Linked DNA regions of Homo sapiens. The protein of the gene in region 1 interacts with the protein of each later gene in a pairwise test. Each region holds a gene or a part of one and is shown in the gene's direction. Other genes may lie near its edges. The genes, in order: NRDE2, CCDC183 and UQCC2.

Region 1 (3,652 bases):
GAGGCTGCATCTCTACAAAAAATAAGCTGAGTGTGGTGGCATGTGCCTGAAGTCCCAGCTATTCAGGAGGCTGAAGTGGGAGGACTGCTGAAGGATTTTGAGGCTGCAGTGAGCTATATTGCATAACTGCAGTGAGCTATATTGCATCATTGCATCCTGGGTAACAGAGGGAAACCCTACAAATTTTTCTGTAGTTGGGTGCAGTGGCTCACACCTGTAATCCCTGTATTTTTAGTAGAGATGGGGTTTCACCGTGTTAGCCAGTATGGTCTCAATCTCCTGACCTTGTGATCCGCCCACCTTGGCCTCCCAAAGTGCTGAGGCGGGCGGATCGCTTGAGGTCAGGAGTTCAAGAGCAGCCTGGCTAAATTTTGTATTTTTAGTAGAGATGGGGTTTCACCATGTTGGCCAGGCTGGTGTCAAATTCCTGGCCTTAATTGATCCACCCACCTCGGCCTCTCAAAGTGCTGGGATTACAGATGTGAGCCACCACGCCTGGCCGTTAGTTGATTATTTGATAAGGATTTTATAGCAAAAGTGCCTTCATTTAGGGAAACATTGTGTTAAATTATAGCCTAGGTCCTGTATAATTATTAAGATCTCATGCTAAGTGATAAATTGGATATAACCTAAATGTCTAATGATTGGGAAATGGTTAAATAAATTATGGCACATCCATACAATGGAACAGTTTGAAGTCAATACAAATTATATTTTCTAAGATTAATGGTATGAGGAGATGCTTTAAAGTAGGAAGGCAGGCCTGAAACTATGTGATATCAACTATTTTGAAAAAGGATGTATGTGCACACACATATATATACATACTGAAACACATATAGTGTCTGAAAGTAGATAGTAATATAGGCCAGTAACATTTTTCCCCTTCCCTTATCATTTTCATCTAATTTGTTATAAAAATGCAGCTGTTAGTTTAAAGTCAGGAAACAGTAAACATTTTTCAAGAGATTTTATGAATATCTAAAATACTGTATATTTTTTGTGAGACTAATGAGGAATCAATACTATTAAAAGAGGATAAAGGAGAACAAAACTAGCTTTTTAACTTAAAGTTTGTTCCTTAGGGAATGGCAGCCTTGTTTAGAACTACATTAGTGCTATTTTTTTTTTTTTTGAGACCAAGTCTCACTCTGTTGCCCAGGCTGGAGAGCAGTGGCTTGAGCCCGGCTCACTGCAACCTCTGCCTCCTGGGTTCAAGTGATTCTCCTGCCTCAGCCTCCCAAGTAGCTGGGATTACAGTCGTGTGCCACCACGCCCAGCTAATTTTGTATAGTTAGTAGAGACGGGGTTTCACCATGTTAGCCAGACCGATCTCAAACTCCCGACCTCTGGTGATCCACCCGCCTCAGCCTCCCAAAGTGCTGGGATTACAGGCATAAGCCACCACACCCGGCCTACATTAGTGCTATTTTATCTCATCACACCTTTGTTAAGGTTGTTTTTGACTCATAAATGGAATGGCAAGAGACTGTCATGAGATAGTCTGAAAGAATTGGGAGGGAGGCTAGATAAAAGGTTTGAGAGAGAATATTTATGTCTGTGTGAGAAAATAGTCCCCTACAGTGGAATTTGCTGTGTTTGGTCAGTGAGGAGGGCAGAGGCACTTAGAGAGGGGACCTGTTGACCGCAGAGAAGCCACAGAGGTGAGGGAGAGAGCCCGGCCCTGAACCAAGGTGAAGTGGAGCGGAGCTTCCTGGGAGCTGACAGAAGATGAAGGCAGTTCTCCCCTGCCTTTTTCTCCCCACGGCATTTCCGGTTTTATTAGGAAAAAATTTTAATATACAGCAAAAGTTGAAAGATTTTTACAGTGAATGCTCGTATAACTGCCCCCTACATCTACCATTAACTTTGTATCCATTAAGTTTGTATTGTACTTGTTTTGTCATATGTGTCCATCCATCAGCCCATCCTATTTTTTTGATGCATTTCAAAGTAAACTGCAGATCAATAAACAACCCCCTAAATACTTCAGCATGTGTATTATTAACTAGAGGTCAATATTTATTTAGTTTTATTCCTTTAATTGAAAATTTACATGCAATGTAATGCACAAAGCTTCATTCTCACCCGAACCTCTGTTAAAATGTGAAATATTACTCTGACCGCCAGAAGTTTCCTCGTGCTCTTTTCTGGTAAGTCTGTACCCCATTCTCCCAGAGGCAATCACCGTTCTTACTTGTTTCCACCCTCAATTCGTTTTTACCTGTTCTAAAATGCATGTAAGTGGAATTATACAGTGTGTACTCTTTTGTATCTGGCTTCTGGCTTCTTTCACTCAGTGTAATGTTTTTGAGATCATCCGTCCATAAGGCACTTACCAGTAGCTCCTTTTTACTGCTGGTAGTATTCCATTGTATGGCTGTACCTCTGTTTACTTATCCATCTTCTATTGATGGACACGTGGACTCTTTCAGTGTTTGGCTGTTAGGAATAAAGCTGCCGAGAGCATTTGTGCTCATGTCTTTGTGTAGACATGTGCTTTCCTTTTTCTTGGGTAAATATGTAGGAATAGAATTGCTGGGTCATAGGTTAGGTCTGTGTTGAATTTTTTAAGAAACAGCCAGATCTTTTCCCAAAGTGATTATACCAGTTTACATTCCCGCTGACAGCGGATGAGAGTCCTGGTTACTCCACAGGTTACTCACCAACATTTGGTGTTGTCAGCCTTTTAAATATTAACACTGTTCTAGTTGGTGTGTGGGGTACCTCATTGTGGTTTTAATTTGCATGTCCTTGTTGACTAAGGATGTTGAGTTGTTTTTTTTTTTATGTGCTTATTGGCTATTCATGTCTTCTTTTGTGGAATTTCAGTTCAGATCTTTTGCCCGTTTTTAAAATTGAATTGTTTGCTAACATACATACAGAAAAATGTACAATTTTCCTTAGCTTTTGCCTGTGCAAATATTCAGTAGTCATGTGTTTGTTAACTCTGGGGACGCCTACATGTTCCATAAAAGCGTTTTAGAACCCAACCTCTTTTCCTCTAGAGTAGAAAATAACCAAATGTAATTTCATTTGACATACTTTGTTTCAGGATTAAAAAAAGAATCTTAGGCCTATATGTTATCTTCTTAAGTAGGGACACAGGAAAATATTGAGAAAACAGGACTGGTCTAGGAAACAGATGATCCAGGTTCCCAGGCCTCAGTGTCCTTATTTAGGAACAGTTAAGAGAAGGGATGATAATTTTTGCCTTGCCTGTCACATATGGCTGTGATGATCAAATGACATAATGTGTGTGACAGTTCTTTACAAGGCTCCAGGAAAATAGAAATTACTAAGATCTAGAAGACAGGCATGATCTTAAATTCATGAGATGTTAAAGAAGAGTTGAAGTGTTATAGGAAGAAGTCAAGCCAGGCAGAAAGAAAGTTAATTACTAGTCCTTGTGTATCTCCAAATAGAAACAATCTGAAGGTGAGGTGAATTTGGTTATATGCAGTGAACCTGCATAACGAGAGTTTAGGTCTAATGCGCCTTTAGTCATTCAGAGGTAGTACACGTATTCCCTCAGTAACTTTTTTTCTTTTTCTAATATCAGATACAAGAGGAAAGGAGACTCCTGCCTTGGCATTAACCCTAAGAAGCAGTGCATATCTTGGGAAGGGACTTCCACAGAGAAGAAGCATTC
Region 2 (4,320 bases), on another chromosome or scaffold:
GGAGAACCTGGAGTTTGCCTGGACTGGCTTTCCAAAAACAGTGACCAGAAAGGGAAGGGATCTATGTGACAGCACATGGGCAAAGGCCATTGTCGGGCTGGCTTGGGTCCCCCCAAATTTCTGTCCCCCAGGACCTCTGCATGTCTCTGTATTTGAAGACAGGGGCTTTCCAGAGGTCATTAAGGTAAAATGAGGTCATTGGGGTGTCCTCATAAGAAGAGGAAATTAGGACACAGACACACAGAGGGACGGCCACGTGAGGACACAGAGAAGACAGCATCTGCAAGCCAAGGAGAGGGGCCTCAGGAGACACCAGCCCTGCTGACCCGTGATCTCAGCCCCCAGCCTCCAGGCTGCTGTTCACATCCCCCAGTCGGTGGCGCCTTGTTTTTTTGTTTTTTTGTTTTTTGTTTTTTTGAGATGGAGTCTTACTCTGTCACGCAGGCTGGAGTGCAGTGACGCGATCTCAGCTCACTGCAACCTCCACCTCCTGGATTCAAGCAATTCTCCTGCCTCGGCTTCCCAAGTAGCTGGGACAGGCGCCCACCACCACACTGGGCTAATTTTTGTATTTTTAGTAGAAACGGGGTTTCACCATGTTGACCAGACTGGTCTTGAACTCCTGACCTCAGGTGACCCACCCACCTCAGCCTCCCAAAGTGCTGGGATTACAGGCGTGAGCCTCCACACCTGGCCAGTGGCACCTTGTTATGGCCGCCTGAGCCTACTAAGGCAAGGCTGGGAAAAAGTACCCCATCTCGTGTGTACCCCATCTCGTGCATACCCCACAGAGTTCCAGGCTGCCTGGTGCTCCAGGTACTCCCCTCTAAGGGAAGGGTGGAGGGGGTGCAGAGATGGAGAACATACCCTTTCTGGAGTGACACATGAACCCAAGACCCAGTAATTCCCAAAGGAAAGTGGGGGTGAAGCAGGGTGGGCTCCAGACAGCACAGAGAGGTCAGGGACAGAAGTCAGAAGAGATAAGGTGGGGGTGTCCCAAGAGCCAGGTTACCCAGTGCATGGAGTTTGGACTTGGGGCTGGGGGTGGGGGGTGCAGAGGGAGGTCCCGTAAGGCAGTATCAGAATAGTATCAGAATCGTTTTAGGAGGCTCGGCCTGCTGCTTTGTGGAGGATGGCTTGGGGCATGGGAGGGGCCAGGGAGGGAACCCAGTGCAGGTGTGAGCTGCCGGTGCTGCAGACCCATCACAAACCTCCCCCTCAAAGAAAGCACATCCGCCCGGCAGAGCTCCTAAGCCTCGAGCAGCTGCCAGGAGACTCATTTCAATTAGGACACATGTCTGGAGGCCACCCCAAGGTGGCTGGGGGCAGAGTGAGGCAGGAGGCCCTGCAATTCCAGGGTTGCCCAGGCACTGAGAATCCTGGCTCTCATCATAATGGGCTGAGGTTCTGGGGACAATCTGAGTGGCGGCTCTGAGCAAGCTGAGCCCAGGGAGGCTTTGAGGTACACAGGGTCCCTTGGGGGGCCTGAGAGCAGCCATGAGGAGGCACAGTGAGACAGATGTGGAAGAGCAGACCCAGGAGCTGAAGACCATCACTCAGCTCCAGGGTGAGCCTGCACCGCCGTGACCAGTCTCCCTTTCCCGTCTGGGGGTTTCTGGGTGCACAACTTTTTGTGGGGAAAAGAGAGATCAGATTGTTACTGTCTATGTAGAAAAGGAAGACATAAGAAACTCCATTTTGATCTGTACTAAGAAAAATTGTTTCTGCTTTGAGATGCTATTAACCTGTAACTTTAGCCCCAACTCTGTGCTCACAGAAACATGTGCTGTATTGAATCAAAGATTAATGCATTTAGGGCCGTGCAGGATGTGCTTTGTTAACAATGTGTTTGCAGGCAGTATGCTTGGTAAAAGTCATCCCCATCCTCCATTCTTGATTAACCAGGGACACAGTGCACTGCAGAAAGCCGCAGGGACCTCTGCCCAGGAAAGCCTGGGAATTGTCCAAGGTTTCCCCCCACTGAGACAGCCTGAGATATGGCCTCGTGGGAAAGGAAAGATCTTACCATCCCCCAGCCCGACACCAGTAAAGGGTCTGTGCTGAGGAGTAGTGAAAGAGGGAGGCCTCTTTGCAGTTGAGATAAGAGGAAGGCATCTGTCTCCTGCTCGTCCCTGGGAATGGAATGTCTCAGTGTAAAGCCGACCATTCCCATTCGTTCTATTCTAAGATAGGAGAAAACCGCTCTGTGGCTAGAGGCAAGATATGCTGGCAGCAATACTGCTCTGTTACTCTTTGCTACACTGAGATGTTTGTGTAACGTGAAACAAATCTGGCCTACGTGCACATCTGGGCATAGTACCTTTCCTTGAACTTATTCATGATAAAGATTCCTTTGCTCACATGTTTCCCTGCTGACGTTCTCACCACCTGTTGCCCTGCTACACTCCCCTCACCAAGATAGTAAAAATAATGATCAGTAAATACTGAGGGAACTCAGAGACCAGGGCTGGTGCAGGTCCTCGCATGCTGAGTGTGCCAGTCCCCTGGGCCCACTGTTCTTTCTCTATACTTTGTGTCTTTTTTTTTTTTTTTTATGAGATGGAGTCTTGCTCTGTTGCCCAGACGGCAGTGCAGTGGCGCGATCTCGGCTCACTGCAAGCTCCACCTCCTGGGTTCACGTCATTCTCCTGCCTCAGCCTCCCAAGTAGCTGGGACTACAGGCACCCACCACCATGCCCGGCTAATTTTTTGTATTTTTAGTAGAGATGCGGTTTCACCGTGTTAGCCAGGATGGTCTCGATCACCTGACCTCGTGATCTGCCCGCATCAGCCTCCCAAAGTGCTGGGATTACAGGCGTGAGCCACCATGCCCAGCCTCTGTGTCTTATTTCTTTTCTCAGTCTTCATCCCACCTGACGAGAAATACCCGCAGGTGTGGAGGGGCAGGCCCCCTTCACTTTTAGGGGATGTTTGTTTGGAGACAGAGTCTCGCTCTGTCACGCAGGCTCGAGTGCAGTGGCATGATCTCGGCTCACTGCAACCTCCACCTCCCGGGTTCGAGCGATTCTCCTGGCTCAGCCTCTTGATTAGTTGGGACATCAGGTGTACGCCACCACACTCAGCTAATTTTCGTATTTGTATTTTTATTTATTTATTTATTTTGAGACGCAGTCTCGCTCTGTCACCCAGGCTGGAGTGCAATGGTGCAATCTCAGCACACTGCAACCTCCACCTCCCGGGTTCAAGTGATTCTCCTGCCTCAGCCTCCCGAGTAGCTGGGATTACAGGTGCCCACCACCACGCCCAGCTAATTTTTGTATTTTTAGTAGAGACGGGGTTTACCCATCTTGGCCAGGCTGGTCTCAAACTCCTGACCTCAGGTGATCCATCCGCCTCGGCCTCCCAAAGTGCTGGGATTACAGGCATGAGCCACCGGCGCCTAGCTTATTTATTTTTTTGAGACAGAGTCTCATTCTGTCGTCCAGGTGGAGTGCAGTGGTGCAATCTCAGCTCACTGCAACCTCCACCTCCTGGGTTCAAACAATTCTGCCTCAGCCTCCTGAGTAGCTGGGACTACAGGCACACACCACCACACCCAGCTAGTTTTGTATTTTTAGTAGAGATGGGGTTTCACCATGTTGGCCAGGCTGGTCTCGAACTCCTGACCACAGGTGATCCGCCCACTTCGGCCTCCCAAAGTGCTGGGATTACAGGTGTGAGCCACCGCTCCTGGCCTAGGACTTTTAGTTTTAATACAGGGACAATCCAGGACATGGAGGGGAAAACAGACCCCCCTACTGCCCACTCCCTGACAGAGCTGGGAGAAGGGATCAAAGGGACCTGCATGGAGGGACTAAATCAGAGAGAGGGGCTTCAAGGAGACGTGAGCATAAGAGCAACACGGGCCCCAAAGCCAGAATGGACAGGAAAACACCCACCTGCTTCCATGGGCAGCAAATCTGGACGGGACCACAGGACCCTGCCATCCCTCTCCTTTGCCTCACCCTCCCCACCTGTCCACCTCCCCGCACCTGTCCACTGAGAGCCCTTCAGACAGCTGCTGCTGGGCAGTGGAGCGGTGTCCCCCAGGACAGGGCGGGAGGAGGGATCTTGGCCATGGAGGGGGCATCCCCCTGGACCCTGGGGCCTGGGGCCTCCCTGATGCAAGCCTCCCCCAGGGGATTCCAGGCCAGGCCCTTGGCCCAATCCTAGCCACTGTGTCCCCTCCACCTGCCCACAGAGCAGTGTCGGGCACTCCAGATCCAAGGGGTGAAAGAGAATATGGACCAGAACAAGGCCACGCTGGCCCTCCTGCGCAGCAACATCCGCCGCGGGGCCCAGGACTGGGCTTTGGCCAAG
Region 3 (2,870 bases), on another chromosome or scaffold:
CTCACTTCCATCATGCACTGACCACTTGAGCATGCGGGGACTCCCCCACTGAGTCCCTGTAGCCCACTCTGCCCAGCACCCCCTTTGTTAGGCACGCCTTTCCAACCTTACATTTCTATTGTGGCATCTCCCACTGCAGCTGGTGTCGTGGCTCACAAGTCACAGATGCTCAACAAATGCTTGTTTGCTGATTAATTGATCTGATTTTTCTGTAGGTTGGGGAGTTGATGAGGCAGAGCTATGCCTCCAAAAAGTAGTTTCTAATAGCAGAGCTGTAGTCCAGGTTTGCTTCCCGCAGAGTGGAGAAGCCAGTGCTAGCTGCAGGCCTGCTTCATGTGAACGCTTTATTAAGTATGGTCTTTCCTCAAGGTACAGACACTGTGGGAGGCAGGACTCCTTTGCTCACCTCCTTTGGGATTCTTTGCTTTTCAGGTTGCAGAGCCTGAGGCCTGTGATCAGATGTACGAGAGCTTAGCGCGACTCCATTCAAACTACTACAAACACAAGGTGAGTGGGCCACAGTCTTTTATATACCCAGCTTTCTGACGGGACAACTAATAAGAATGAGTGAAAATCTGATTAGGTAATGTTTTGTAAAGACTTGGCTTTGCTGCGTTCAAATGAAACCAGTAATTTCAACCAAGCCAACAGAGGTGCCTGGTAGAGGCTTTTAGGCCACCTAAATAAAAGCTATTTAAAATTGTGAATATAGGGAAGAAACAAAACCAATTATGAATAGAAGCCATGTATTTGATATGCCAGTGTGTGCTCCTGGGAATGTCTGACAGCCATTGGATTTATACCTATTTTCCCATCCACTCTGACGGAACTGACACCTCCCCACATTCTGGTGATAAAGATGGGATGATTGGGAAAGTGCCCTCCTTTTACGGAGCTGGGCCCAACATGATTACTGTCAAATTCCATTTAGAGTGGTTTTTCCCATACTTGAAAAATATGCTCATTAACTCCACAAACATTTGTGGCCATATGCCTATGTGGAAAATTGATTTTTTCTAAATCCTCCCTGCTAACATGTGATCCATGAGCAGCAGCATGGGCATCACCTGGGAACTGGTTAGAAATGCAGAATCAGGGGCCCCACCCATACCTGCGTTTTCCAGGGAGGACTCACGGGTACATTATAGTTGGAGCTGCCTCCTGGAGACTGTACTGGTTCTTGCGAGGCCAAGTCTTGACCTCGAGGTGGCGCTGCTCTTCTCCTTGCTAGGCCTCCTGGCCTCTGGTTGCCCAGGGCCTAGGTGAAATGCAGTTAGAGAGCAGGGCTTGTGTGCTGATCTCTCCCCTCCCTTCACTTCCTTTCTGCCCCGGTGACCAGTACCCTCGCCCCAGAGACACCAGCTTCAGTGGCCTGTCGTTGGAAGAGTACAAGCTGATCCTGTCCACAGGTAATGAAAGCACAGCTGCCTTTTCTCATTGGTTTGCAAATGATTCTGAGTTTGAGTGGCCAAGGGGAATTGTCTAAGAAGACAGTTTTGCTTGATGGAAAGTCTTGTAGAACAGCCCAGAGGAAATTCTGAAGCTACAGGGCGCATGCATTTTGACCATATACTGTGGAGAAGGTCAAAGGCGTTATTTAAAAAAGAAAATCTATCTTTAGGGCTTTTAAATTCAAGGCTGGGCATCAGGGAACAGAGGAATACCTATTTGCCAAATGGAAGTAGTTGAAATCAGGATGGAAGGAAAATAATTTTATTTTTATGGTCTTAAGAGGGCTTTATAAACAATGAAGGTTTTAATTAAAACAAAAAACCATTCAATAAACGTGTTTGGGGATATCCGCCTAAGAGTTATGTGACCCAGGGGACGTGGTCTGTGGGTTAGATATGAGTTTAACTAGGTATGTTTTAGAGTCATTGATAGACTCTGATTATCAAGAAAGGAAACATCCTGCCAAGCCCGTCCTTTCCTTACTTCCCTATCTCCATTGTCCCTAAGGAGGGGGGCCGGAGAGCCAGGGATGAAGTAGGCAGGTACTGGAAAATTACTATTTTTGTTGCCAAGTATATTATATACAAAAATAGGTTAACCTTTTCTGGGAGGGCATGGCCCTGACACATTTCCTTCTGGTATTCTAGAAATGTGTCTTTCCTCTTCTTCTGGCAGCCTTCAGCAACTTAAGTTTTGAGGATTTGGGCTTCTAGAAAACTCTCTTCTGAGATTAAAACCTGGTGGTGTCACCTGCTATTACATGTCAACTCTAACCCTATTTTTATTCCAGTACTCTCTGGGAAACTGTGGTGAAGATATTTTGGCCAGGCAGAATCACTTTATTGGCAATTTTTTTTAATGTGTAAATTTACTCCTATATCCCTGGGTCCGTGTAATTAGCAGCATTGATGCACATTATTGTGAGGGCCCTGGACAGTTTGAGCAAAGTTTGAACTTGAAGTGAGGGCGGAAGTAAGTTCCAGAGGCCCTGCCTCTGCCCTCTGTTTTGTTCACCTCAGGGCAGCCTCTGCAAGTGGAAAACAGGCAGCAACGAAGGCTGGGAGATAGTCCCGCCATTGGTCCGCGCTGCAGCTTGTTCTGGCAGCGAGTTTAGTTCAGGAAATTTGCTGAGAATTTGTTTTCACAGCAAGCCTCATATTTTTGTTGCAAATTGTGTGGCGTAAGCTTACCAAATGTTTCCTCTGACAGGACAAGAAAAGACCTGCAGCACCTTGTAGTGAGAGGCTTTGAGGGCCTGGCAAGTCTGAAATGTGCTGTGTTCTGGGTTATGTGTGTGTCCACCCTGGGATTGGGGTCATGGAAAGCGCCTAAGGGAGGCCTCAGTGTCCACCTGGACACTGGAAACATGGACTTCTGGAAAAGCTCCAGAGCAGGGGCTTTTTTCTGTTACCTTTTTT

The links.
Region 2: the proteins of NRDE2 (region 1) and CCDC183 interact in a two-hybrid assay, tested with the Homo sapiens proteins (one large-scale study listed by BioGRID).
Region 3: the proteins of NRDE2 (region 1) and UQCC2 interact in binary tests that used the Homo sapiens proteins (3 or more experiments, as listed by UniProt).

The regions. Positions count from the first base shown.
Region 1 is NC_000014.9:90,304,293-90,307,944, reverse strand, and holds part of NRDE2 (nuclear exosome regulator NRDE2), read left to right. Parts: intron 1-3,562; coding exon 3,563-3,652. UniProt on the Homo sapiens protein: Protein of the nuclear speckles that regulates RNA degradation and export from the nucleus through its interaction with MTREX an essential factor directing various RNAs to exosomal degradation.
Region 2 is NC_000009.12:136,794,901-136,799,220, forward strand, and holds the start of CCDC183 (coiled-coil domain-containing protein 183), read left to right. Parts: upstream 1-1,437; 5' UTR 1,438-1,497; coding exon 1,498-1,567; intron 1,568-4,201; coding exon 4,202-4,320.
Region 3 is NC_000006.12:33,698,983-33,701,852, reverse strand, and holds part of UQCC2 (ubiquinol-cytochrome c reductase complex assembly factor 2), read left to right. Parts: intron 1-432; coding exon 433-507; intron 508-1,339; coding exon 1,340-1,409; intron 1,410-2,870.